Linked DNA regions of Homo sapiens. The protein of the gene in region 7 interacts with the protein of the main gene of each other region in a biochemical or structural test. Each region holds a gene or a part of one and is shown on either strand. Other genes may lie near its edges. The genes, in order: SHANK1, PDZRN4, RADIL, RAPGEF6, PARD3B, HTRA3 and MTMR1.

Region 1 (3,500 bases), on a different chromosome or scaffold from region 7:
GGCCCCGCCGCCCACCCCGCACCACCACTCGCCCCACGCCCACCACGAGCCAGTGCTGCGTCTCTGGGGGGCCTCCCCGCCGGACCCTGCGCGCCGGGAGCTGGGGTACAGGGCCGGGCTGGGCAGCCAGGAGAAGTCCCTTCCCGCCAGCCCGCCCGCCGCCCGGCGTTCCCTGCTACACCGCCTGCCGCCCACCGCTCCCGGGGTGGGGCCCCTCCTGCTGCAGCTGGGGACGGAGCCCCCGGCCCCGCACCCCGGAGTAAGCAAGCCCTGGAGGTCCGCAGCCCCCGAAGAACCCGAGCGGCTGCCGCTGCACGTGCGGTTCCTTGAAAACTGCCAGCCCCGGGCCCCTGTGACGAGCGGAAGGGGTCCCCCCTCGGAGGACGGGCCGGGGGTCCCGCCGCCCAGCCCACGCCGGTCCGTGCCCCCCTCCCCGACCTCCCCGAGGGCCAGCGAAGAGAACGGGCTGCCCCTGCTGGTCCTGCCGCCTCCCGCCCCCTCGGTGGATGTGGAAGATGGCGAATTCCTTTTCGTGGAACCGCTGCCTCCGCCTCTGGAATTCTCCAACAGCTTCGAAAAGCCAGAGTCGCCCCTCACGCCTGGGCCTCCCCACCCGCTGCCCGACACACCTGCCCCTGCCACCCCGTTACCCCCTGTGCCACCCCCGGCTGTGGCCGCAGCCCCTCCCACCCTGGACTCCACCGCATCCAGCCTGACATCCTATGACAGCGAGGTGGCCACCCTGACCCAGGGGGCCTCCGCCGCTCCTGGGGACCCCCATCCACCAGGCCCGCCTGCCCCAGCAGCACCGGCTCCCGCTGCCCCACAGCCTGGCCCGGACCCTCCGCCTGGCACGGATTCTGGCATCGAGGAGGTGGACAGTCGGAGCAGCAGTGACCACCCACTGGAGACCATCAGCAGCGCCTCCACGCTGAGCAGCCTATCTGCCGAAGGTGGTGGCAGCGCAGGGGGTGGGGGCGGGGCTGGGGCCGGTGTGGCCAGTGGGCCGGAGCTTCTGGACACCTATGTGGCCTACCTGGACGGCCAGGCCTTTGGGGGCAGCAGTACTCCCGGCCCGCCATACCCTCCTCAGCTCATGACTCCCTCTAAGCTCCGGGGCCGGGCGCTAGGAGCCAGCGGAGGCCTGCGGCCTGGCCCCAGCGGGGGACTCCGAGACCCTGTTACCCCCACCAGCCCCACCGTCTCGGTGACAGGGGCTGGAACCGATGGGCTGCTGGCCCTGCGTGCTTGTTCAGGACCCCCCACGGCAGGCGTGGCGGGGGGTCCGGTGGCTGTAGAGCCAGAAGTCCCACCGGTGCCCTTGCCGACGGCCTCCTCTCTGCCCCGGAAGCTGCTGCCCTGGGAGGAGGGCCCGGGCCCACCGCCACCACCTCTGCCCGGGCCCTTGGCCCAGCCTCAGGCCTCAGCCTTGGCCACAGTAAAAGCCAGCATCATCAGTGAACTCAGCTCCAAGCTTCAGCAGTTTGGGGGCTCCTCGGCAGCTGGCGGCGCTCTGCCCTGGGCCCGAGGAGGCAGTGGGGGAGGCGGAGACAGCCACCACGGGGGAGCCAGCTATGTCCCCGAGAGGACCTCCTCCCTGCAGCGGCAGAGGTAAGCGGGGGCTGGTGGCCAACAAGGGAGGCCAGAGGTGTTGATGGCATGGCTGTGTCCCTTTAGGGTCTCAGGGTGGCAGAAAGGAAACAGAAACCAGGTTGGCAGGAGTTTGCTGTCACAGAAGCATGCTTTCACAAATATTTTCTTTTTCTTTTTTTTTTTTTCTTTTCTTTTCTTGAGAGGGAGTTTCACTCTTGTTGCCCAGGCTGGAGTGCAATGGCGTGATCTCGGCTCACCACAACCTCTGCCTCCCGGGTTCAAGCGATTCTCCTGCCTCAGCCTCCCATGCCACCACACCCAGCTAATTTTGTATTTTTAGTAGAGATGGGGTTTCTCCATGTTGGTCAGGCTGGTCTCGAACTCCCAACCTCAGGTGATCCATCCGCCTTGGCCTCCCAAAGTGCTGGGATTACAGGCATGAGCCAACATGCCTGGCTTTTTTTTTTTTTTTAGAAACAGGGTCTCACTCTGTCACCCGGCTGGAGTGCAGTGGTGTAATCATAGCTCACTTGCAGCCTCAAACTCCTGGGCTCAAGCAATCCTCTGGGACTATAGGTGCACGCCACTATGCCTGGCCAATTTTTCTTTTCTTCTTCTTTTTTTTTTTTTTTTTTTTTTTTTTGAGACAGAGTCTCACTCTATTGCCCAGGCTGGAGTGCAGTGGTACAATCTCAGCTCACTGCAACTTCTGCCTCCCAGGTTCAAACGATTCTCCAGCCTCAGCCTCCTGAGTAGCTGCGATTACAGGTGCCCGCCACCATGCCCGGCAAATTTTTGTATTTTTAGTAGAGATGAGGGGTTTTGCCACGTGGGCCAGGCTGGTCTTGAACTCCTGACCTAAGGTGATTCATCCCACCTCGGTCTCCCAAAGTGCTGAGATTCCACACATGAGCCAGCATGCCTGGCCCTGGCCATTTTTTCTTTAACTTTTTGTAGAGACAAGCTACGTTGACCAGGCTAGTTTCAAACTCCTGGGCTTAAGTGATCCTCCTGCCTTGACCTCCCAAAGTGTGATTACAGGTGTAAGCCACTGGGTCCAGCCTTTAAATTTCCATTTATTTCAGTAGCTTCTGTTGTCTCTGCCCATCACCATCACAACCTACATCCCATGATGAACAAAAAGTTATTAACAGGCTGGGCGTGGTGGTTCACGCCTGTAATCCCAGCACTTTGGGAGGCTGAGGCGGGTGGATCATGAGGTCAGAAGATCGAGACCATCCTGGCTAACACGGTGAAACCCCATCTCTACTAAAAAAAATACAAAAAATTAGCCGGTCATGGTGGTGGGCACCTGTAGTCCTAGCTCCTCAGTAGGCTGAGGCAGGAGAATAACTTGAACCCGGGAGGCCGAGGTTGCAGTGAGCCAAGATTGCACCACTGTGCTCCAGCCTGGGTGACAGAGTGAGACTCCGTCTCAAAAAAAAAAAGTTATTAACAAAGGAGACTGGAGTGAGACCTGCTTATGTTTGTTTCCTTGGTGAGCTGCCACTTCTTTCTGACAGTCCCTGAAATCTGTGAGTCCCTTGAAGCCAGTGTGGTTCAAGACAGGATGCAGTTATAGGTGTGGTTCTAGAGCCCACCTTCTCAGCTTCCAGTCCCAACCCTGCACTTTCTACCTGGGTGATCTTAGGCAAATGAATCCACCTCTCTGTAGAAGTGGAATGGCCTAGTGCCAGCCCAAAGAGTTTTTGAGAGGATTTAGTGTGTGCCATTGTTGTAACATGGGATGGGGGAAGAGGGGGCCTCGAACAAGAGCCCAGCAACTTCTACGTGGGGAAATACGGGATGATGCAGATGCTTCCCAGAGCAGCCAGTCAGCTGCATCGTCGCAGAATTCGAGCCCATTCAAGACCTTCTAGTCCTAGAGAAAGTAGAGTTACATTTCT
Region 2 (3,500 bases), on a different chromosome or scaffold from region 7:
TCTACATCCAATGGAGCATGAATTTTATGAGGACAATGAGTATATTTCCAGCTTGCCTGCTGATGCAGACAGAACAGAAGACTTTGAATATGAGGTAAGGTCATTTTCATACCACTTCACATTTCTTCATGAAGTTACGGTTGAGGGGTTTTGTATAACAAAGAAATTAATTTATTACAGTGAGAAATGTCTTGTCTATTACATATCCAGTGTAAGATCTTTCAAATACTATTTGCTTTAGCTATGTGGCTCTCGTGTTTTAAGTATATTGGAAAATATTTTTATAGTATAAGCTTAAATATAATTTGCTCTCATTTTGTTGCTTTTTAATAAATAATATTGCAACAGCTACATTTTTAAAATCTGTTCTATAATATATGTGGATTTCCAAGTGGAGTTTGAAAAATATATTTAAAACAAAGATTGTGTTTACTATTTTCATTTGTTGTATAATATTCTAATTTTCATTGATAAACTAAATTTTATTATATTGTATTCTTTGGAAATGCAATACTCTCTTTGTGCCTCTGGTCTGTACTCTAAAGAGCCATTTCACAGACTTCCTAGAAATAGAGATGGCCTCATGCCCTTTGTTGTTAAACTATATTTATTCTTCACATGGTTTAATGTCAGAATATCTGTACTGTGATATATAACAATTCGAAAAGTCCATCCATTGATTATTTAAAAGCTCTCACAAAAGTTAAAGAATGTATCCTAATATTTCCTCTGCTTCTGCAGCCTGAATATCTTTGAAAGGTTTCAGACTACTCTGACATTTAAAAATAAAATAGATTGAGGAAGTAAAGAAGCTTTGGTAAACAGGCAGAGAACCCATGGTCACCTGCCCTTTTAATGCTTCAGGTGATGTCATACAAGTTCAGCAAAGTGTTCTCTTCCACTTTACAACCAGGAAATCCTGAAATCTCTTCCCTTAGGAGGATCTGAAATCAAATAAGGAAGCTCATCTAAAGCAAATGGACGTTTGTTTGAAATCTTCTCCCCACAAAAGTCATTCCTGGGGATTACAGAAATCATTATTTCTTTGCAGCCAAAATTTAGAAGGATGTGAAATGACAACTGGTAACTGAGTAGATGGTTTTTGTCATTCTTGTGTTGTTCATGTTAAATTTTTACCTCCTCTTTATTAAGTTGATTGAAAAGTTTTATTTTCTAAATCTACTCAAGCACTGACATGCATTACAATATCCATTGCTTTGTCTATTCATGTAAAATAAATTATAAAATTGAATGACTTATCCAAATAATTCAAGATTCTTATGTTTTCCTTTTGGTTAATGAATACTTTCAGTTTGGGGACTGGAATTATGTAGATCACTTCAACTTTTTATTTGGATGCCTTAAAGCTTTATTAAAATAAGTCAGTGTGCTCGGGGAGGGCATAGGGGAAGATTGTTTAGGCTAAGCAAGTTAACAGTAAAAGCCCTTTAAATGAATCAGCATGTCATTGAAATATTACAATACAGACAGATTTCCTTACATTTCTATGGAGCTTACTGTAACTGAACCACAACCTCTTTTTTGACCAATATTAATCCCCAGCAGAAGCCAGCATCAGGATGATGTCAGTGGTGAATTCTCAGACAAGCTCTCTGTAGCCTGTAATCTCAACTAATCACAGCATCATAGTCATTAATTTGCTGTCAGCTGTGATTCCGTTGCCAAAGGCTCCTTTCTGAGTGATTGAAATAAAGAATGTTCCTGTGAAATTCAAATAAGGAAGGAGTTGCTATGACAGTTTTCAATCATTAGAAAGGATGCATTTGAGAACAACATGCATGGTTAAAGGTGGGAGTGGAGGCATGGGAGAATACCTCCAGAGAAATTTACCAGATTCAAGAGAGAATAATGGTTCTGCCCAGTACTCCTCAGTCTGTTATCATTATGTGACACACACATAGAGTGGCACATGCCATCCCTTGTGGCTGCATCAAACTGCAAAATCTAGTCAGTCCACTGCCATCATTGGAGCCTGTGGTGGACACCATTAGGCTCATTCAGTGAAGAGATTTAGAAATGCTAATTCTGTCTATGTGTTGCACTTTTACTGTTACACCTAGAAGCAGACTGATCTGGTGTTTCTGTGACCAGCTGAGATGACCCTAGCTCCTCTAGGAGCTTCCTTATAACCCTATAGCTCTAGGAGCGGGATGGATGAGCACCTTAAGGAAGTACCAGTTTTGTGCCACTGAGAGAATATCACAGGAAAGTGAGGTTTAATGGCCAAGAAGACTTCAGCTCAGAAAGAGATATGCATTCCTCTTCAACCTAAACATGAGCACAACCAGGCAATCAAGGAAGTAGAAAGAAGACTCCTTTTTCATCTGCTTTCATTCATTTGTACCATAAATATTTAATGAGGACTTAAAATGTACCAGGCAGTTATCTATGCATGGGATTAGGAAGCTCCTGCCCCAGTGGAAGGAGCTTCTAGGAGAGGGAGGTCAACAATAAACATAAAAGTAAAGACATATTCTTTTCAATGGTGAGAAGTACTAATGGAAAATAATAAGAGTGGTGTTGGACAGGATGTTGCTGTCTTATACAGAGTGGTAATGCAAGACTTCTCTCATAAGAGAACTAAAGAATATAAGAGATCTAGCCATGTGAAAGGAGATTTTCAGAAAGAAGGAAGGGCAGGGGCAAAGGACCTGAAGCAGAAGCATGCTGGGGTGTACAAGGAGTAGCAAAGAGACCAGTGAGAGAGTGGAAGGGGTGAATTCAGAGAAAGGAGGGTGTGTTTTGTGGAGCCTTTGGCTTTGACCATGATATAGGAAGTTGCTTTGACTCTGAGATGGGAAGTTGCTGGAACATAGGAAAGCCATAACAGGATTACTCCAGCTGCTGGTCTGAGACTGACAGGAAGGAAGCAAAGTCAGCTGAGAGGGAGTGGGGTATTGGACCTGGGCGGTGATAGCGGGTGGAGTATGTATGACATAATCTAGGACAGCATCCACCCCAGCCTGGAGGGCTGTGCCTCAGAGCTTCAATATAGTTTGTGCTATGGCAATTTTCTTCTGACATTTTAATGGCAAAATATTACAGGTTAGAGTGAAGCACACCTTTTGGCATCCACCAGAGCAAGAGCAATGCATCCACACTTTAAAAGAAATAGCTTCTAGTATATAGACTGCATTTCTGAACTTGCTAAAATACAAACTATGCGGCTATTTAGGTGCCTTTTTAAAGACCTACTTACTATTAACTCAGTGAACCAAAGCTGATCTGTGTATCTCGTGAGTACTTATATACAGACTTAGTGCATGGATTATTAACCCAATAGACCAAAACAGATCTGACTATCTTGTAAATACATATTTAGGGACTTTTAACACACATATTATTTCACTGATGGACTGTAACAGGTCCCTTCAGAGCCACGGCAGACAAGCAAATGCTTCTTTGGAGATATTATACTCAGTGTCCATGTTATGGTGACTCTGGTGTGTTAGGAACCTCTATGAAAATTTAATGACACC
Region 3 (3,500 bases), on a different chromosome or scaffold from region 7:
CCTCCGGCCCCTCGTTGGAGGCTGGCAGCCTGGCCCTTCTGCACACATGCAGGCCTACCCAGCACCAGGAAGGAGACCCTGGGAGTGGCCCCTGCGTGTCAGCATTGGTTCCGACCTGCAGAGAGCCCAGCCCTGGGCCTCAGGAGGCTGTGGAGCCTTGCCTGGAGGAGCAGGGTACACTCAGCTGCGAGCCACTTGCCTGGGGCTGCAGCCCCAGGGGACACAGGCCTGGGACATCCCGTGCCGCATTTGTGGCCAGGTCCTCTGGGAGCCCCTGGGACTCTAGGAGGAGAAGCAACCCTTCCTGCCCCATGGCCCTGGGACTTCCAGCAGGTCACTCTGAGGTCACCTCCTACAACCTGGCCCTGGATTTGGGAGAAAGTTGAGGGCCGGAGCATCATTTGGAGCTGTTTTTGTTCTTCTTTCGGATCTGGCCCCATAGTTGTGCAATGAGGCTGAGCTGTGGGGCTGGTAACGCTTGTGGGAGTGGCGGGTGGGATGAGGTAGGGGAACTGGGCCCCACCTGCTGGGCACCTGCCGCCTGCCAGGCTGGGCCGGGTTCTGCAGGCGGCAGGAGCACGGGTGGTGAGCAGCCCAGCCCAGCAGCCTCGCACTGCGGCTGGGCGGCCTCCCTCACGCCCTGGCCCCCTGCGGGCTGCAGATGCACAGGCTGCCGGCTGCCTTGGGAAGGACGGCGGGGCTGCTGGCGCTGGTAAGGGTCTTCCTCAGCCAGCTGACGCCTCCCTCCATCCGGCTTTTGTTTGGTTTTATTGGGAATGGTTGGAGGAAAGGCCGCCACAGATGGGGATGGATCTTAACCTGAAAGGCTGCGTACAGGGAACTCAGCAGAGGGCTCAGAAAAGACAGCGCCGGGTCAGCTGGGGACTGGTGAGCGGTTTTCATCTATCGCAGCCGGCTGGCTTTCCCAGAGCATGCATTTAGAGAGCGTGTCTGTATTTATGAGATATTAAGTCTTCTAAGGGTGTGTGTTATCTCTGAACTGTGCGCATGTTTGTGTGCATGTATGTGTTAATGTGTGTGGGTGCATGTGTGTTGGCGTGTGTGTATGTGTGTGCATGTGTGTTTTTGGGTGCATGTGTGTGCATGTGTGTGTGCATTTTTGTGTGGGTGCATGTGTATTTGTGGGCATGTGTATGCACACGTGTGTTTGTGTGTGTGCCTGCTTTGGCTTGGGGGTATCAGAGACAGCCTTGGGAAGGAGGCAGCGATGCTGTTGCAGGAGCAGGCCATCGGCAGCCCCATGGGCTGGGGTGATGTGGCACAGTGACACCTCCTCCTTGTAAAGTAGGGGCAGGATGCTGACCAGTCCGTCTCGTCTCGTCAGAGCACCACCCCCAGGGGAGTTTCGCCTGGTGCACAGATGGATGGGGCAGGGCTCTGGAGGCGGCGTGGTGACCCTGCAGAGGCCCAGGCTGCCGTGGGAAAACGTCTGTGGTTTGAGGCCTGTGGGCCGTGGTGCTGGCTGGTCGGGCAGGCCGCGGTGTGACCCTGGGCTGCTGCAGGGGAGGCGTGGTCCCCTCAGCCTGAGGATTTGACAGGCAGGCTGCCTGCTCTGAGACTGTTCTGTGGGTGCCACGGTGGTGCCAAGGCACTGTCTGGTTTTTCGAGGGGCGTGGCTAGAGGGCAGAGTCCTTGAGTCTCCACCAGACCTGTTTTGACAGAACAGTAACGGCATTAGGAGACGTGGCTTAGTGGGATTTGAACTCAGAAGGACCCGGGACATGGGCGCTATTAGACTTACCTGTTTTTTTTGGCGGGGGATGGAGTTTCGCTCTTGTCACCCAGGCTGGAGTGCAGTGGTGCAATCTCAGCTCACTGCCACCTCCGCCTCCTGGGTTTAAGCCATTCTCGTGCCTCAGCCTCCTGAGTAGCTGGGATTACAGATGCGCACCACCACGCCCAACTCATTTTTGTATTTTTAGTAGAAATGGGGTTTCACTGTGTTGGCCAGGCTGGTCTCGAGCTCCTGACCTCAGGCGATCCCCCCACCTCGGCCTCCCAAAGTGCTGGGATTACAGGGGTGAGCCACCGCGCCCAGTCCTGGTGCTATGAGACTTCTAACTGTTCACCTTGTGTTGCTTCTGTTCCAGGGATAAACGCCCAGGCCCGGAGGCTGCAGCGGAGTCGCGCGAAGGGAACCCCGACCCCGGCCCTGGGGGATGCCCGGAGCTCTCCTCCACCCCGGTTGCGCCGCACAGTCAGTGAGACCAGCCTGAGCCCAGTGAACGCCCTGCCCGCTGCCGCCCAGGGCCCCGAGGAGCCCGGCCCCGACGCCATGCGGTACTCGCTGTACCAGTCCCCGCATCTGCTCCTTCTGCAGGGCTACAGCCAGCAGCACGTGAGCCTCCCCTCCTGACACCCACTGCCCGGTGCCACTGCAGGGACAGCAGGCGGGACTCAGAAGTCAAGGCCTCCGCCTGCCTTTAGCCCAGTCGGCCGCGAGCTCTGTGGCTGCAGCCCCTCTGGCTGTGCCGAGGCTGTGGAGTGGGATGGCGGGGGCACATGTGGAGTCATCCACATTTTCCCTGTCCAGGCCACGGTGGGCGGCAGTGGGGGCTCCTCACTTCCCCAATCCCAGAGTGGGTGCCCTCAGCACCAGGCGCCTTCAGGGAGAACTCCTCACGCCTTCCCAGCCTTGGTCTCCCGCCTGGCTCTGGGGAAGGGCATGGGCAGTTGGCCAGGGCCAGTCTGCTTCCTGCTTCTGGCGAGGGGGCTGCTGAGTCACCAATTGGTGGCCACATTCTCTGAAGGGGCACCGAGCAAAGGCCCATGCCACCCCTATCTGCCCAGAGCCGTTTCTCACCACTTCCATCAGAGCAGGCAGGCTGTCGCCCCGAGCAAATGCCAGGCGCAGGGCCACCTCGCCTCACCTTGCCGGACACTTGCCCTGCCAGACAACTGTTTTCCCCGCCCCCTGCTCACCCTACCCCCGCCCTCCTGTGCAGCCAGCTCCTTTGCTGCTCATTTCCATGAGCACTTTACAGCCATAGGGCTCCTGTGCCCAGGTTTTAGGTGGCATCTTCCCTCGGGGCAGTGCTCTCACACAGGCGGCAGTGCTCCCACACTGGGGGTGGTGCTCCCACACAGGCGGCAGTGCTCCCACACAGTTTTGGGGATGACTTGGGGGAAGTTATGTAGTCCTTGGCCCGGTCTGTAGAACCAGTGCCTGTTTCCCGGCCAGCCCTGACCTGGCCTGTCGCTGTCTCAAAGCTGGGTGTCTCCTGGGTCTCTCGTGTGCTCCTCCGGGAAACCGACCTCCTCTGGGATGGGCCCGGACATCGAGGGGCGGGTTCCTGAGAGCCGTCGGGGTTCTGGTGTGGGGGTGGCCAGGGACATGGAGAGCCCGTGGCGACAGCATCCCAGCCACGCTGCTTCAGCAACCAGTGACTAGACACGGGACGCTTTTCCCGTGTGCTGCTCGCGTTACGCCTGCCCTGAGCGGAGTCTCTGTTTCAGGACAGCCTGGTGTATGTGCTCAA
Region 4 (3,500 bases), on a different chromosome or scaffold from region 7:
CACAACTACTCTGCTATTACACCAGAATAGCCATAGACAACACATAAACAAATGGCATGACTGTGTCCCAGTAAAACTTTTTTTTTTTTTTAAGGCGGAGTCTCGCTCTGTGAGACAGAGTGTCACTCTTGTTGCCCAGGCTGGAGTGCACTGGCGCGATCTCGGCTCACTGCAAGCTCCGCCTCCTGGGTTCACGCTGTTCTCCTGCCTCAGCCTCCCGAGTAGCTGGGACTACAGGCGCCCACCACCACGCCCGGCTAATTTTTTGTATTTTTAGTAGAGACAGGGTTTCACCATGTTAGCCAGGATGGTCTCGATCTCCTGACCTCGTGATCCGCCCGCCTCGGCCTCCCAAAGTGCTGGGATTACAGGCGTGAGCCACCACGCCCAGCCAAAACTTTATTTACAAAAACGAGCAAAGAGACCACCAGATTTGGCCCTGGGCTGTAGTTTGCTACCCCCTGCACTATACTGTAAATGAGGGGTTTACAAACTTTTTTTTGTGAAGGGCTGGGTAGTAAATATTTTCGCCTCTGCAATCTACATATAGTCTCTGTCACAAATTCTTCTGGTTTGGTTTTGTTTTCTTTTCTTTTTTAACCTTTTAAAAGGTTAAAAAACAGAACTATTCTTTGCTCCAGACCATACAAAAATAGGCTGTTGGCTAAATTTGGCCCATGAGCTTTAGTTTGGGGACCCCTGCTATAAATTATTCATTTCATGGGTAATTGGGGAAGTTGCTGTTTACTTGGCACTGTACTGGGCTAACCTCAGAGGTACGTTGAAAAATAAAACATGATTCTTCAAGTTGGGAACTCTTAATTCTGTATGCATGGACGCAGTAGTCTAATATTGTGATGACCAAAAATGAATATGTATACTTAACCTTATTCATTTCAACTCTCATCTTTACATTTTCATTTAAAATCAGTTCAAGAAAAATACTTGCCAGGCATACCTCTGGTCCATCCCAGCTGCTGGGGAGGCTGAGGCGGGAGGATCACTTGAGCCCAGGAGTTAAAAGCTGCAGTGCATCATGATCGTGCCTGTAAATAACCACTGCACTCTGGTCTGGGCAACAGAGTGACACCCTGTCTCGAAAAAAAAAAAAATATCTAACATTTTAAAATTTAAAAAGAAAAATTCTAAGGAAATTTTGCTAAGCATTAGAGTTTCTTTACTGTGTCTTCTGAGTGTTAACTAAATACTTACAAGGAATATAGTGATGAATGATGATAATATTGTTTTCCTCACGATGTTATTTGGCATGAACACTTGTGGTACGTGCTCTGTAGTTTCTCACAGGCAATAATAACTTGAAACAGAGAGAAGATAGTTTTTCTGGCAAGCCTTCTAATTGTACGTTATCTCCAATTTTAGGTGGACACTCTTGAAGCCATCTCTAATCAAGTGTTTAGCTGTCTCATCGTCTGTGAGCAATGAAGAGATTTCTCAAGAGCATATCATTATAGAAGCAGCTGACAGTGGTCGTGGAAGTTGGACTTCGTGTTCAAGCAGCTCCCATGACAACTTCCAAAGCCTTCCAAACCCAAAAAGCTGGGATTTTTTGAACTCTTACAGACATACCCATTTGGATGACCCCATTGCTGAAGTTGAACCCACTGACTCTGAGCCCTATTCCTGTTCTAAAAGCTGCTCTAGAACTTGTGGGCAGTGTAAAGGAAGCCTAGAGAGAAAGAGTTGGACCTCCTCCAGTTCTCTGTCTGACACGTATGAACCAAACTATGGGACAGTTAAACAGAGAGTATTGGAGAGCACCCCAGCTGAGTCATCTGAAGGCTTGGACCCCAAGGATGCCACTGACCCAGTTTATAAAACTGTCACTTCAAGTACAGAAAAGGGCTTGATTGGTAAGTTGTGTTTTTGTTGTCTGTGGCATTTAGAGATTAAGTAGTCAAAAAATGGCATTGGGATATCTTGGCCCTGGATTTTATCGTCGCAAAAATTCATTCTCTAACAACCTTTCTTTCCTTCACAAACAAACAAGTTATTTCCCAAAAATTCATGGTTTCTCAAAGACTTTGGAGCAGCTATTCAACCCCATTAAAATGAAAAGTCTGATGTGAAGGTATTTAATTAGAGGGACAAGTTTGTTTGTCTTTTGTTTTTAAGTTCTTTTTGGTTTTATTGAGGAATATCATCGCATTAGTGTGCAATAGTAGTAAAGGGATTATTCTCTTTATCACCTCATAAATTGTTTGGACCACAATTGGTATGCATACGTGGTAGAAACATTGAATCTGCTATTGATTTTAGGTCGTAACAGTGAGAGAAAATGCAATCAGGAAGTCCAGAACATTTTTCAGTATACTCTCTTGGTGTACATCATGAGTGTGCCAACTCCTGTTTGTGAATTCCATTCCAAGCTTTCTTAGTAAACTTTTTTTTTTAGTATTTGGCCATCAAATACTTTTTAAAAATTTCTTTCCTAAACTATATAAATACGTGGATATAAAACTGCTTTTCTACTTATATGGAATGACTCTACTTTGAATTAATATCATAATCAACTGTTAAATTTATGCAACAGTCATGGTGTCGCATTTAACTACTAAAAATGTGAAGGTGAAATGTGCTGATTTTATAGTTACTTGTCAAATTGCATTATAGGTTGGGTTTTTAGCTCATTCATTTTTTTCCAACTTTTTTTTTTTTTTTTGAGATGGACTCTTGCTGTATTGCCCAGGCTGGAGTGCAGTGGCATGACCTCGGCTCACTGCAACCTTCGCCTGCCAGGTTCAAGCAATTCTCCTCTCTCAGCCTCCCAAGTAGCTGGGATTACAGGTGCCTGCCACCATGCCCAGCTAATTTTTTTATTTTTAGTAGAGATGGGGCTTCATGTTGGCCAGGCTGGTCTCAAACTTCTCACCTCAGGTGATCCACCCACTTCGGCCTCCAAAGTGCTGGGATTACAGGCGTGAACCACCGCACCTGGCCAGAAGTAAAGTTCTTGAAGGAATTAGTTCCTCCGTACCAGCAAAGTTAAAGTTTATATGCTAGGACTGAGAACTAATCTGCCCAGGAGTGCCAGAAAACATTGGTTCATGTCTCAGAGAGAAGGTGAAACAGCCCTTAAACAGATGGCCCAAATGTCATTTCTATGTAAAGTCTCCCAGTTTACAGAGAATCGGTGTGTAGGGTGAACTTTTAAATGTTTCTGATATCTTTAGGGCTGGTGTGACTTCAGGAGTTGTCATGTACTTCTGTGATATGGGGGCTGAATTGCAGAAGGAAGCTTGTCATCAGTGTCATCTCCTTCAACTCTCTCGTTCTATTTAATGTTTACAGGACTTAATATAGTTGTTTATGTATTTTAAAAAGAGGTTTGTTTATTAAACTTTTAAAAAATGTTTTTGATCTGCCATCATTCAAGTTTATTCATTTTGTCTATTTTTAAGTTGTATTTTGTCATTGTAATAAGTTTGTGGGGTGGTTTCTTTTTTTTTCCATTTCTTTTTCATTAACATTTTCATTGCTTA
Region 5 (3,500 bases), on a different chromosome or scaffold from region 7:
TCCCGCTTGGACCTGCTGTTGTCTTCAATGCCTCGGATGAAGAGTCCTAGAATCCTAAATGCAAAATTTAGATTGAAATATAATTACTGAATAATAAATGCTAATTATTTCTCCACTTGCAACTATTCAGAAATACATATTGATTTCTATTTACAAAAGAAATTTTACTTTATATTCAGGCAACTGTTTGTTATTTTAATCCCTAATCCAAAAAAAGCCAAAACTGACTACAAGAGAAAAAGCCCTTCTAGATAAATATGCATAAGTACCAACATCAATCTGCGACTTCATTTCTCATGCTTGCAGTAAACTTATTGAAAGGCTAGTTTACTGGAGTTGACACCAAAGACTTGTGGTTTGGAGAAGGGCATCACACCTGACTATAGTAAGTCTGAGTTAGTGCCAACGTGGCAACGTGATGTTTAGCAGTGGGAGAGCATTAGGATATTCACAGTAACATTTTTGCAGTCTTACTACCTATTCTAAAAATTTGCATTTTAAGAAGTAAAGAAACATTTAAGCTCAGATCATATTACTCAGTTTAGAAGGAAGCTGGATCCCATTTGTTGGTGCTACCAAATCAAGTATGTGTTGGGTGTTTCCTGTGTGATCAGGATGGAGGAGTATGAGACAAAGTCATAGGACCAGGACCAGGTAATTTCACTATACATTTGGGGGACAGCTGAAGTCCAAAAACTAAAGACATTAACAAGCCTAGAGCCTTCAAAGATTTGAGAGCTAACTAGATGGGAGACCAGTGCCACACACAAAGGCTTTGAACAAACAGCCAATGAACTTAATCTGATGGACCTGGAGGGGGGCATCTAGCAGACCCCGCTTCCGAGTAGGGCAGCGACATGATGAAGGCAGGCTTTGGGAAGAGTTGTCCAAAATTTCAACCAAGAAGAGGCTAAATTAGAGAGGATACAAAGAGGCCTCTGGATTTTTGTGGCTGTAGCTTAGAATCAGGAGGGTTGGAAGAGAAGGAAAGAAGAAAGAAAACTATAGCCACTAGAATTAAAATATGTGTGTGTGTATGTGTGTGTGTGTGTGTGTGTACACACATACATACACAATTCTGTTACATATATAAACCAAAACTAAACCAAAAACCGTAAGAAATGGAACTTATACATATTTTCATTATTTCTTATTTGTGGGATTTCCCTTCTCCTCGTGATGTGACAAGGCTTAGCTGTGTCCAGAGTAAGAAAGATAGATATGTCCTGCAAGAGGAGTCTGCTACATTTGGAGAAACTGTGATCTGCACTTTATCAATACTCTTGCTTTTCGACTTTGTCACTCTCTTTTGTATAAAATCCATGTGTGCTATTACAAAATACCTTCACATTAAATTTCAAACCTAAATAAAACATGAGTACATTTTATGTGTAAATAACAGGGTCAGCCATAGAAAAGGGGAATCTACAATGCAAGTATTAGAGAAAGTAGTCCTCCTGTTTGGAGTGGCCACGGAGTTGAACCTCTGTCCCCTTAATGAGCTCCCATCATCTCAAGACCTCAACAGGCATGGCAGTGATATTTGGGTCTCACTTCAAAATGTTAAATGAATACAGCACGCTGCTGCAGGAGAAAGAACAGCAAACAGCCATGCCATCTACTGCAGGGAAGGCTCAGGGTCATAGGCACAAGTGTGCAGTGGGGTCTTGTGGTTCATTTCCTAGTTCCAGTAGGTTAGCAAATTAGTCATATTCTGTGTTACTTTAATCTTGAAACACAGTATTAAAAATGAAACTATTTGACACATTAAAATAATAGATAAAACTTATGGGTTTTTTCCCTAAATTAAACAGCATCCTAAGAGTTCACATTTTGGATTTTTGTTAGGGTGGATTCACAATAACTTGATTCATTAGGAGGCTCACATGTGGTTATAAACGTGTTTATGTAAGTGATATTTTTTTAACAAGCATTCAAGTCTTCCTTTAATTTAATTCAGTACATCATCAGTCATGTAATGTTACTCCCTAGGATTTAATTTCACATTTTGGGAGATGAATTAATTCTTTCGGGCCACTGGGTTGCAATTTAGCTGGCATATTACAGCTGGAGTATGCTATGTGAACCTCACTGATCTAAATAATCTAACTTTCCATGAAAAATTTATTGACAGAATAAGCCCAACTGTAAAACCCATGTGTCAGAGGTAATTTTGGTAAAATGTAAAACTGACTGATTTTATTAGTTTGGTCCCTGGCAACAAACCACTTCTGCCCTCTCTGCTCCGTGGAAGGGATAGATTCCCTCCAGTTTGATTTCATCCAGACCAATACAAGAAGGCTCAGAAAACAATACCTCATTATCCTCTTTGCCCTGAACTGGTGGGCTGTGGTAGCTGTCTCATTTGGGACCAAGACTCGCAGAATTTAAAGATTAATGCTGTCGAGGAGTTATAGGCCGAGACTAACCAGTTAATTTGCATTAATGAACAGTGATAAAGGATGCTGAAATCCACAGCCTCACAGAATTAGAGGGGTAACAATTCTTCTTGCTCTTCTAATTATCATTTAGGCACCAACATCTTCTCCTTGCCCCCTTCCTGTTCTTTTCCCAATGTCACACAGCCTCAGTGACTCTACCAGCTTAGAATTTTGGTTTGAACATCTCTTCTCACAGTCTTTATCAGCCTTCATCCAGTCCTTCTCCTTCTCTCTCCTGTTTAGCTGTCTTCCCTATGAAACTGAGGCATATTATGCATCTGTACTGAAACGAATTAGATTTCATGTTTTTAATTCACAAAAACCACATTGATTTTAAAAATCTGAATAAAATTAAGTTGCATTTTAGTTGCAAGAACTTTGGTGTTTTTTTTATGTTTGCTTTGTTTTTACTGGGAAAGCCAATGGCCCTCAATACAAGCAGCATTCAGCACCCCTCTGCGATGGTATCTAATGAATTCATTGAGGCTTTATCTAGCAGAGCAGCCACTATAATTTACTTATTAGGATGATCTAACTTAGATTAGGTTTCTTATTCAACAACAGGTGTGGCAACATTTTTCTAAAAGAAAAAAAAATAAAAAAATACATTGGAGGCAAAGCCAATTACAGTAATCTTAGTAAAAAAATTAAATGTAAATTCTAATTTAAAATAATGGCACAAACCAATAAATGGAAGGAAATTAAGAGCAAAGTATACCACTATGACCTTAACGAAGCCCCTGTGCTCACACAGTGAAACCATATGGCATTATGAAGTCAGACACTTGTCTGACATGCTCTATACACAGTTGCATCTAGACACATGGGTTGAGTTAAGCGTGCTGTTTCAGCCTGTACTCATTACTCCTTAACTTTTATTGGCTCATGTCTCCACTTCCATAGCATTTTTAATGTTTTTTAATTAAATTTCCTTCCTATAATACTGGTGGATAGCAAAAAATAAATAATAGAACTATTTCACCAAGTTACTGAACAGTTAACCATGAACTTATAATAAAACTACATTTCTGAATCAGGCTTTTTGGTTTTAGCCAAAAT
Region 6 (3,500 bases), on a different chromosome or scaffold from region 7:
CGACGTGGAGCCCCGCACAGGATTACGGGAGCCCTTGGTGGGCGGGCGCTGGTGTGGGAAAGACTCAGGCCGCTCCTCTATTCTCTGTGCTCAAGAAGCTTCAGTCAATGGCAGAGAGAATGCCAGGTGGCGGAACCAGGCCTGCACATTGGAAGGTGAGGGCCCGGAGAGATGACATTTTCCATTGCTGACCGGCCGAAGAGGCAGAAATAACGTCTGAAATCTCTGGGAGGCCGTGAACTGAGGAGGGTCAGCCCGTCCTCCCTGCACCCAAGGAGGGTGCACAGGTGAGGCCGTGAACTGGGGAGGGTCAGCCCATCCTCCCTGCACCCAAGGAGGGCGCACAGGTGAGGCCATGAGCTGGGGAGGGTCAGCCCATCCTCCCTGCACCCAAGGAGGGCGCACAGGTGAGGCCATGAGCTGGGGAGGGTCAGTCATCCTCCCTGCACCCAAGGAGGGTGCACAGGTGAGGCCGTGAGCTGGGGAGGGTCAGCCATCCTCCCTGCACCCAAGGAGGGGGCACAGGTGAGGGTCAGGAGCCTTTCCCATGGCTCGATTTAATGCCTAGGGGCTAGGAGGGCGTTTCCCACCTCAGCTCATGGCCATGGGTGCTGACCAGGGCCTGCAGGACATGAATCACACTAGCTCTGCTGGCACCCATTTGCCACAGGTGGCTGGTGGGGCGTCCTGCTCAGGCCCACCTGGATACCACCCCACCAGTCCTGCCAGCATTCTGCCACAGCCGCCGGAAGGGGAGACAGACCTGCCCCTAGTCTCGCTCTCCTCTTCCCACAGGGGTCCTCGAGCGGGGGTTGCAAACTGGCCCAAGGCCCAAACGCTGTCCATTGCCTGTTTTGTGAATCAAGCTTCACTGGAACGCAGCCACACCCACCTGTGCAGCCTAAGGCTGCATTTTTGCCACAGCAGAGATGCGTGGTTGTGACAGAGACCACAGGGCTTGCAAAGATAAAATATTTACCATTTGGCTTCATGGAAAATTTGTTGGCTGGGCACCATGGCTCACACCTGTAATCCCAACACTTTGGGAGGCCGAGGCAGGAGGATTGCTTGAGCCCACGAGTTCTAGACCAGCCTGGGCAATACAGCGAGACCCTATCTCTACCAAAAATTTAAAAATTAGCCAGGTATGGTGGTGCATGCCTGTAGTCCTAGCTATATGGAAGGCCAAGGTGGGAAGATCCCTTAAGCCCAGGAGTTTGACGCTGCAGTGAGCTGTGATTGTGCCACTGCACTCCAGCCTGGGCAACAGAGCGAGACCCTGAAAAAAAAAAAAAGAGAGAGAGAGGGGGAGGAAGGGAGGAAGGAAGGAAGGAAGGAAGGAAGGAAGGAAGGACGGACGGAAGGAAGGAAGGAAAATTTGGGGGTGGGGTGCAGTGGCTCATTCCTGTAATCCTAGCACTTTGGGAGGCCAAGGCAGGGGATCACCTGAGGTCAGGAGTTCAAGACCAGCCTGGCCAACATGGTGAAACCCATCTCTACTAAAAATACAAAAATTAGCTGAGGGTGGTGGCATGCACCTATAGTCACAGCTACTTGGGAGACTGAGACAGGGGAATTACTTGAACCTGGGAGGTGGAGGTTGCAGTGAGCCGAGATCCTGCTACTGCACTCCAGCCTGGGTGACAGAGCAAGAACCCGTCTCAAAAAAAAAAAAAAAAGGCTAGGCACGGTGGTTCACGCCTGTAATCCCGGTACTTTGGGAGGCCAAGGCAGGTGGATCACCTGTGGTTGGGAGTTCAAGACCAGCCTGACCAACATGGAGAAACCCCGTCTCTACTAAAAATACAAAAAAATTGGCCAGTGTGGTGGCACATGCCTGTGATCCTAGCTACTCGGGGGGCTGAGGCAGGAGAATTGCTTGAACCCGGGAGGCGGAGGTTGTGGTGAGCCGAGATGACGCCATTGCACTCCAGCCTGGGCAACAAGGGCAAAACCCCATTTCAAAAAAAAGAAAAGAAAATTTGCCAACTCCTGTCCGTGAGCACACCCCTCAGTGGGTTTCCTTAACTTTAAAATGGAGGTGATGCCCCCAGACTCAATCGCGACCGTGAAAAGTCTGAAAAGCAGGGAAGGGTCCCCATTAGGGGAACTCCTTGGAACCATTAAATCTCCTCTCCCTTGATGGGGCAAGAGGAAACCCCCTTGCAAAAGATTTCATCACAAATGCTGTAAACGTTCATTCAGAAAGAGAGGAAGCCAAATTCAAACCAGCCAAGGTGAACTTCCCAGTCCAAGGGAAGCTCCGGGTCCAACGCTGGTGTGAGACATGGGACTCAGTGACCTCATGGCATGGGGAGCTGCAAGTAACTCAACTGTGGTCCCCAGGGTCACATAAGCATGGCATTGGGCAAGACAAGAACAAGCTGGAGGGAGGCCGGGGTCCTAGCTGAGCGGGCCAGCCCTGCTCCAGTGCGCTGTGATCTTGGACGAGTTACCTAACTTCCAAGCCTCAGTTGCCCCGTCTGAAATCCCAAGATAATGAGGTCCCTGATATGGTTTGGCTCTGTGTCGCCACCCAAATCTCATGTCAAATTGTAATCCCCATGTGTTGGGGGACGGGCCTGGTGGGAGGTGATGGGATCATGGGGGCAGACTTCCCCCATGCTGTTCTCATGGTGGTGAGTTCTCACGAGATCTGATGGTTTTAAAATGTGTGGCATGTCCCACTTCACTCTCTCTCTCTCCGGCTCTGCCATGAGAAGATGTCCCTGCTTCCCCTTTGCCTTCCGTCATGATTGTATGTCTCCTGAGGCCTCCTGGTCATGCTTCCTGTACAGCCTACAGAACTCTGAGTCAACGAACCCTCTTTTCTTCATAAATGACCCAGTCTCAGGTAGTTCTTTATAGCAGTGTGAAAACAGACTCATACAGGCCCTTTCCTCCCAGGCCTGTGGTGAGAATTAGAGGAGTGCAGTCAGCGCCTGGCTGAGAGCAGGCCTTCCAGAAACAGCCGGTGGAGGAAGAAGAGGATTCTGGGGGCCTCAGTGCAGGCCTCTTCTGGGTCAGCTGGTGGGAGGTACAGACGTGAAGGTGGAGGGATGGGGTCCCTGTCCCAAGTGTTCCCCACGGCAGCCCCCTGGCCTCCACGCCCAAACCCAGATGCCATCCCATGGGGCAGGTGCATCCCCAGTAGTGGGCCCAGGTAAGACAGTGAAGAGCCTCCGTGGGGTGTGATATGGGACCACAGCCCACCCACTGTGGGCCACATGCTTCCTGGCTCTGCCCTGCACCTAGCGGCTCAGGGAGCGCAGGACAAGGAGTCCAAAGACCTGGGTTCTAGGTCTTTTCCAAGCCGTGACCCTGGGCCAGCTGCCAGTCCTCCCTGGGCCCAGTTTCCTCCCCCTGGCTGATGGAAGGTGGGGCTAGCTTGCCTCTGGGTTCCGGCGTCTGGGAAGAGGCCACCATGCCCAGCCCCAGGTGCTTCCGCCCCTCCACCCACGCCCACCCACCTTGGGATGGATCTTGATGGTGGCAATGTC
Region 7 (3,500 bases):
AAGTATCTATTCTTGTCCTTTGCCCACTTTTTAATGGGGTTGTTTGTGTTTTTTCTTGTAAATTTGTTAAATTCCTTATAGATGCTGGATATTAGACCTTTGTCAGATGCATAGTTTGCAAATATTTTCTCCCATTCTGTAGGCTGTTTACTTTGTTGATAGTTTCTTTTGCTGTGCGGAAGCTCTTTAGTTTCATTAGATTCCATTTGTCAACTTTTGCTTTTATTGTGATTGCTTTTGGCATCTTTATCATGAAATCTTTGCCAGTTCCTATGTCCAGAATGGTACTGCCTAGGTTGTCTTCCAGGGTTTTTACAGATTTGGGTTATACATTTAGGTCTCTAATCCATCTTGAATTGATTTTTGTATATGGTGTAAGGAAGGGATCCAGTTTCAGTCATCTGCATATAGCTAGCTAATTATCCCAGCACCATTTGTTGAATAAGGAATTCTTTCCCTATTGCTTGCTTTTGTTGAAGATCAGAGGGTTGTAGGTGTGCACCCTTATTTCTGGGCGCTCTATTCTGTTCCACTTGTCTATGTGTGTCTGTTTTTGTACCAGTACCATGCTGTTTTGGTTACTGTGGGCCTGTAGTATAGTTTGAAGTCTGGTAACATGATGCCTCCAGCTTTGTTCTTTTTGCTTAGGATTGCCTTGGCTATTCTTTTTGGTTCCATATGAATTTTTAAATAGTTTTTTTCTAGTTCTGGGAATGTCATTGGTAGTTTGATAGGAATGGCATTGAATCTATAAATTGCTTTGGGCAGTATGGCCATTTTCACGATATTGATTGTTCCTATCCATGAGCATGGAATGTGTTTCCATTTGTTTATGTCATCTCTAATTTCTTCGAGCAGTATTTTGTAATTCTCATTGTACAGATCTTTCACCTCCCTGGGTAGCCATATTCCTAGGTATTTTATTCTTTTTGTGGCTATTGTGAATGGGATTGCATTCCTGATTTGGCTGTTGGCCTGGCTGTTGTTAGTGTATAGGAATGCTAGTGATTTTTGTATGCTGATTTTGTATCCTGAAACTTTATCAAAGTTGTTTATCAGCTGAAGGAGCTTTTGGGTCGAGACTATGGGGTTTTTACTTTTTAGAATTCTATTTTATGTCCTGTGATTGCATATTAGCTATAATTGTTTGTTTTGTTATGTAACTAGTTATTTTACATCTTTATGTCTACCTTCAAATGATTGTATGCTGCTTCATGTACAGGATAAGAACCTTATAGTAGTATACTCCCATTTGTCCCCTCCTACCCTTTATGCTGTTGTTGTCATCCATTTTACTTTTACATATGTTATAAACCCCACAATATATTGTTTTTGTTTTTGTTTAAACAGTTATCTTTTAAGGATAATGATAATAATGCCTTAGTCTCCTACAGAAGCACTTGCCAATCCACTCCCTGCCAACTTCTCTGGCCTCATATTCGACTGTCCTCACTGCACCCATTGATCCAGGCATACTAACCTCTAACAACTTATCACTGTGCCCTTCCTCCCTTCCTTCTCTTACTCCCCCTACCCACTTTCCTATTGAGTTAAGTTGATCCTTTTCTGAACTTCCATTGTAATACTTTGTGTCCACATTGTTATTTTAGCTTTTGTCAACCTCTAGTGCAGGGATCCCCAACCCATGGGCCGTGGATCAGCACTGGTCCATGGCCTGTTAGGAACGGGGCTGCACAGCAGGAGGTGAGCAGCGGGCTAGTGAGCATTATCGCCTGAGCTCCGTCTCCTGTCGGATCAGCGGTGGCATTAGATTCTCACAGGAGCGTGAACCCTGTTGTGAATTGCGCATGTGAGGAATCTAGGTTGTATGTTCCTTATGAGGGTCTAATGCCTGATAATCTGAGGTGAAACAGTTTCATCCTGAAACCATCCCCCTACCTCTGCCCTGGTCCATGGAACAGTTGTCTTCCATGAAACCAGTCCCTGGTGCCGAAAAGGTTGGGGACCTCTGCTCTAGTATAATGGCGATTTTTCTGTGTGGTATCTCTCACAGGTCATGGGCTGCTCATGGACAGGAACTTCTTCCAATTATACCCAGAATCCCAGCAATAGAAGGCTCTCAGTACATAAGGAGTATAGAAAAGTTCAATGGAAGTATTCTGAGAATTTGGTTCAATGACGTTAATGCCTTTTGTTGTCTCACTTGGACTCATATATAGCTATGTATATTCTTGTCATTCCAGTGGAATGGCACTTTGGGAAAACATGAAGATGTGGTATCTTTGTGATAGAAGTGAGCTTCTTAACACTAATGGGAATTAAATATGTCACGCACTTAATAGATATTGACAAAAAATTAAAACTGATAAGGGGATAAGGAATTTGAAATAAGTCTTTTTCCATTTCATTGATGTGGTTCTAGGTTTTGTCTTCTGTAAAAAGAGTTTCCTTTGGAGATGCATTAGGAGACAATCTTTAGTTTTCATTAGTTTTAAGTAGCAGTAATTCATGAAACAGTAGCCCAGGGTTTTCAGAGTTTAATTAATGTTTTGAATATGATTAATTTATCACCCAGGGAAAATGTTAACTACCTAGGAAAAATGACAGAATATAACTTCTTATGAGGCCCTTTACTTAAAACCTCATTAAGTAGCAAATCAGAATTTTGTTTTAAAAAATTGAAATTTATTAGAAGACTATGCATCTCTCTATATTGAAAGTCATAATTGATATAATCCTATAAAATACAAAATTCCTGGAAAACTGGAATCACAAATATATATTTGGAAAACTCGTGTTAAGTTTTATGGAAGCACAAGTCTATGGCAGTAGTTGCTACTTTGGCCTTTTTCTTTCAGTGAAAGATGTCATGTATATCTGCCCATTTATGGGAGCAGTGAGTGGAACCCTGACAGTGACGGACTTTAAGCTGTACTTCAAAAATGTCGAGAGGGTGAGTTTTTTAAAGTGTGTTTTATTTTAAAAGAAACACTTTTAAAAGAACACTAAAAGAAGAAAGTAAAAAGTCCCCTGAAATCCCATTACCCTGAGATAACCACAGGTTGGATTTTGAGATGCACACATTTGCAAACAGATGTTTGTATCTTGAAAACAAAGGCTGTTAAAGTACCGCTTAAACCTGGAGGGGAAATTCCATTGTTGTCTCAATATATATTTCACAAGGAATGCTGTCAATCAGACTTCAATTTAGCTGGGACAAAGAGGAAATGCGAAGTAAACAAACATGTTTTGTAACCCAGCAAAGACTTAAAATATGAAAACTGTTGACTGACACTAATAGGCATTGATCTTAATTTTTGAACCTAGGACCCGCATTTTATCCTTGATGTTCCCCTTGGAGTGATCAGCAGAGTGGAGAAGATTGGAGCACAGAGCCATGGAGACAATTCCTGTGGTATAGAGATAGTGTGCAAGGTATAATAGAAACGCCAAGTGAAAACTAAAAGAGGGCAATCAGCTCTGAACTTTTTCTCCCTCAGTCTCTTCATGGTCTTTGGACAGTAGAATAATTTGTACTG

What was found.
Region 1: the proteins of MTMR1 (region 7) and SHANK1 interact in a test that uses a peptide from one of them, tested with the Homo sapiens proteins (one large-scale study listed by IntAct).
Region 2: the proteins of MTMR1 (region 7) and PDZRN4 interact in a test that uses a peptide from one of them, tested with the Homo sapiens proteins (one large-scale study listed by IntAct).
Region 3: the proteins of MTMR1 (region 7) and RADIL interact in a test that uses a peptide from one of them, tested with the Homo sapiens proteins (one large-scale study listed by IntAct).
Region 4: the proteins of MTMR1 (region 7) and RAPGEF6 interact in a test that uses a peptide from one of them, tested with the Homo sapiens proteins (one large-scale study listed by IntAct).
Region 5: the proteins of MTMR1 (region 7) and PARD3B interact in a test that uses a peptide from one of them, tested with the Homo sapiens proteins (one large-scale study listed by IntAct).
Region 6: the proteins of MTMR1 (region 7) and HTRA3 interact in a test that uses a peptide from one of them, tested with the Homo sapiens proteins (one large-scale study listed by IntAct).

The regions. Positions count from the first base shown.
Region 1 is NC_000019.10:50,664,303-50,667,802, reverse strand, and holds part of SHANK1 (SH3 and multiple ankyrin repeat domains protein 1), read left to right. Parts: coding exon 1-1,611; intron 1,612-3,500. UniProt on the Homo sapiens protein: Seems to be an adapter protein in the postsynaptic density (PSD) of excitatory synapses that interconnects receptors of the postsynaptic membrane including NMDA-type and metabotropic glutamate receptors via complexes with GKAP/PSD-95 and Homer, respectively, and the actin-based cytoskeleton.
Region 2 is NC_000012.12:41,509,820-41,513,319, forward strand, and holds part of PDZRN4 (PDZ domain-containing RING finger protein 4), read left to right. Parts: coding exon 1-94; intron 95-3,500.
Region 3 is NC_000007.14:4,835,217-4,838,716, reverse strand, and holds part of RADIL (ras-associating and dilute domain-containing protein), read left to right. Parts: intron 1-1,266; exon of another isoform or gene 1,267-1,329; intron 1,330-2,111; coding exon 2,112-2,359; intron 2,360-3,477; coding exon 3,478-3,500. UniProt on the Homo sapiens protein: Downstream effector of Rap required for cell adhesion and migration of neural crest precursors during development.
Region 4 is NC_000005.10:131,429,230-131,432,729, reverse strand, and holds part of RAPGEF6 (rap guanine nucleotide exchange factor 6), read left to right. Parts: intron 1-1,380; coding exon 1,381-1,871; intron 1,872-3,500. UniProt on the Homo sapiens protein: Guanine nucleotide exchange factor (GEF) for Rap1A, Rap2A and M-Ras GTPases. Does not interact with cAMP.
Region 5 is NC_000002.12:205,115,475-205,118,974, reverse strand, and holds part of PARD3B (partitioning defective 3 homolog B), read right to left. Parts: intron 55-3,500; coding exon 1-54. UniProt on the Homo sapiens protein: Putative adapter protein involved in asymmetrical cell division and cell polarization processes. May play a role in the formation of epithelial tight junctions.
Region 6 is NC_000004.12:8,286,754-8,290,253, reverse strand, and holds part of HTRA3 (serine protease HTRA3 isoform 1 precursor), read right to left. Parts: coding exon 3,471-3,500; intron 1-3,470. UniProt on the Homo sapiens protein: Serine protease that cleaves beta-casein/CSN2 as well as several extracellular matrix (ECM) proteoglycans such as decorin/DCN, biglycan/BGN and fibronectin/FN1.
Region 7 is NC_000023.11:150,724,396-150,727,895, forward strand, and holds part of MTMR1 (phosphatidylinositol-3-phosphate phosphatase MTMR1), read left to right. Parts: intron 1-2,819; coding exon 2,820-2,914; intron 2,915-3,288; coding exon 3,289-3,396; intron 3,397-3,500. UniProt on the Homo sapiens protein: Lipid phosphatase that specifically dephosphorylates the D-3 position of phosphatidylinositol 3-phosphate, generating phosphatidylinositol. Could also dephosphorylate phosphatidylinositol 3,5-bisphosphate to produce phosphatidylinositol 5-phosphate.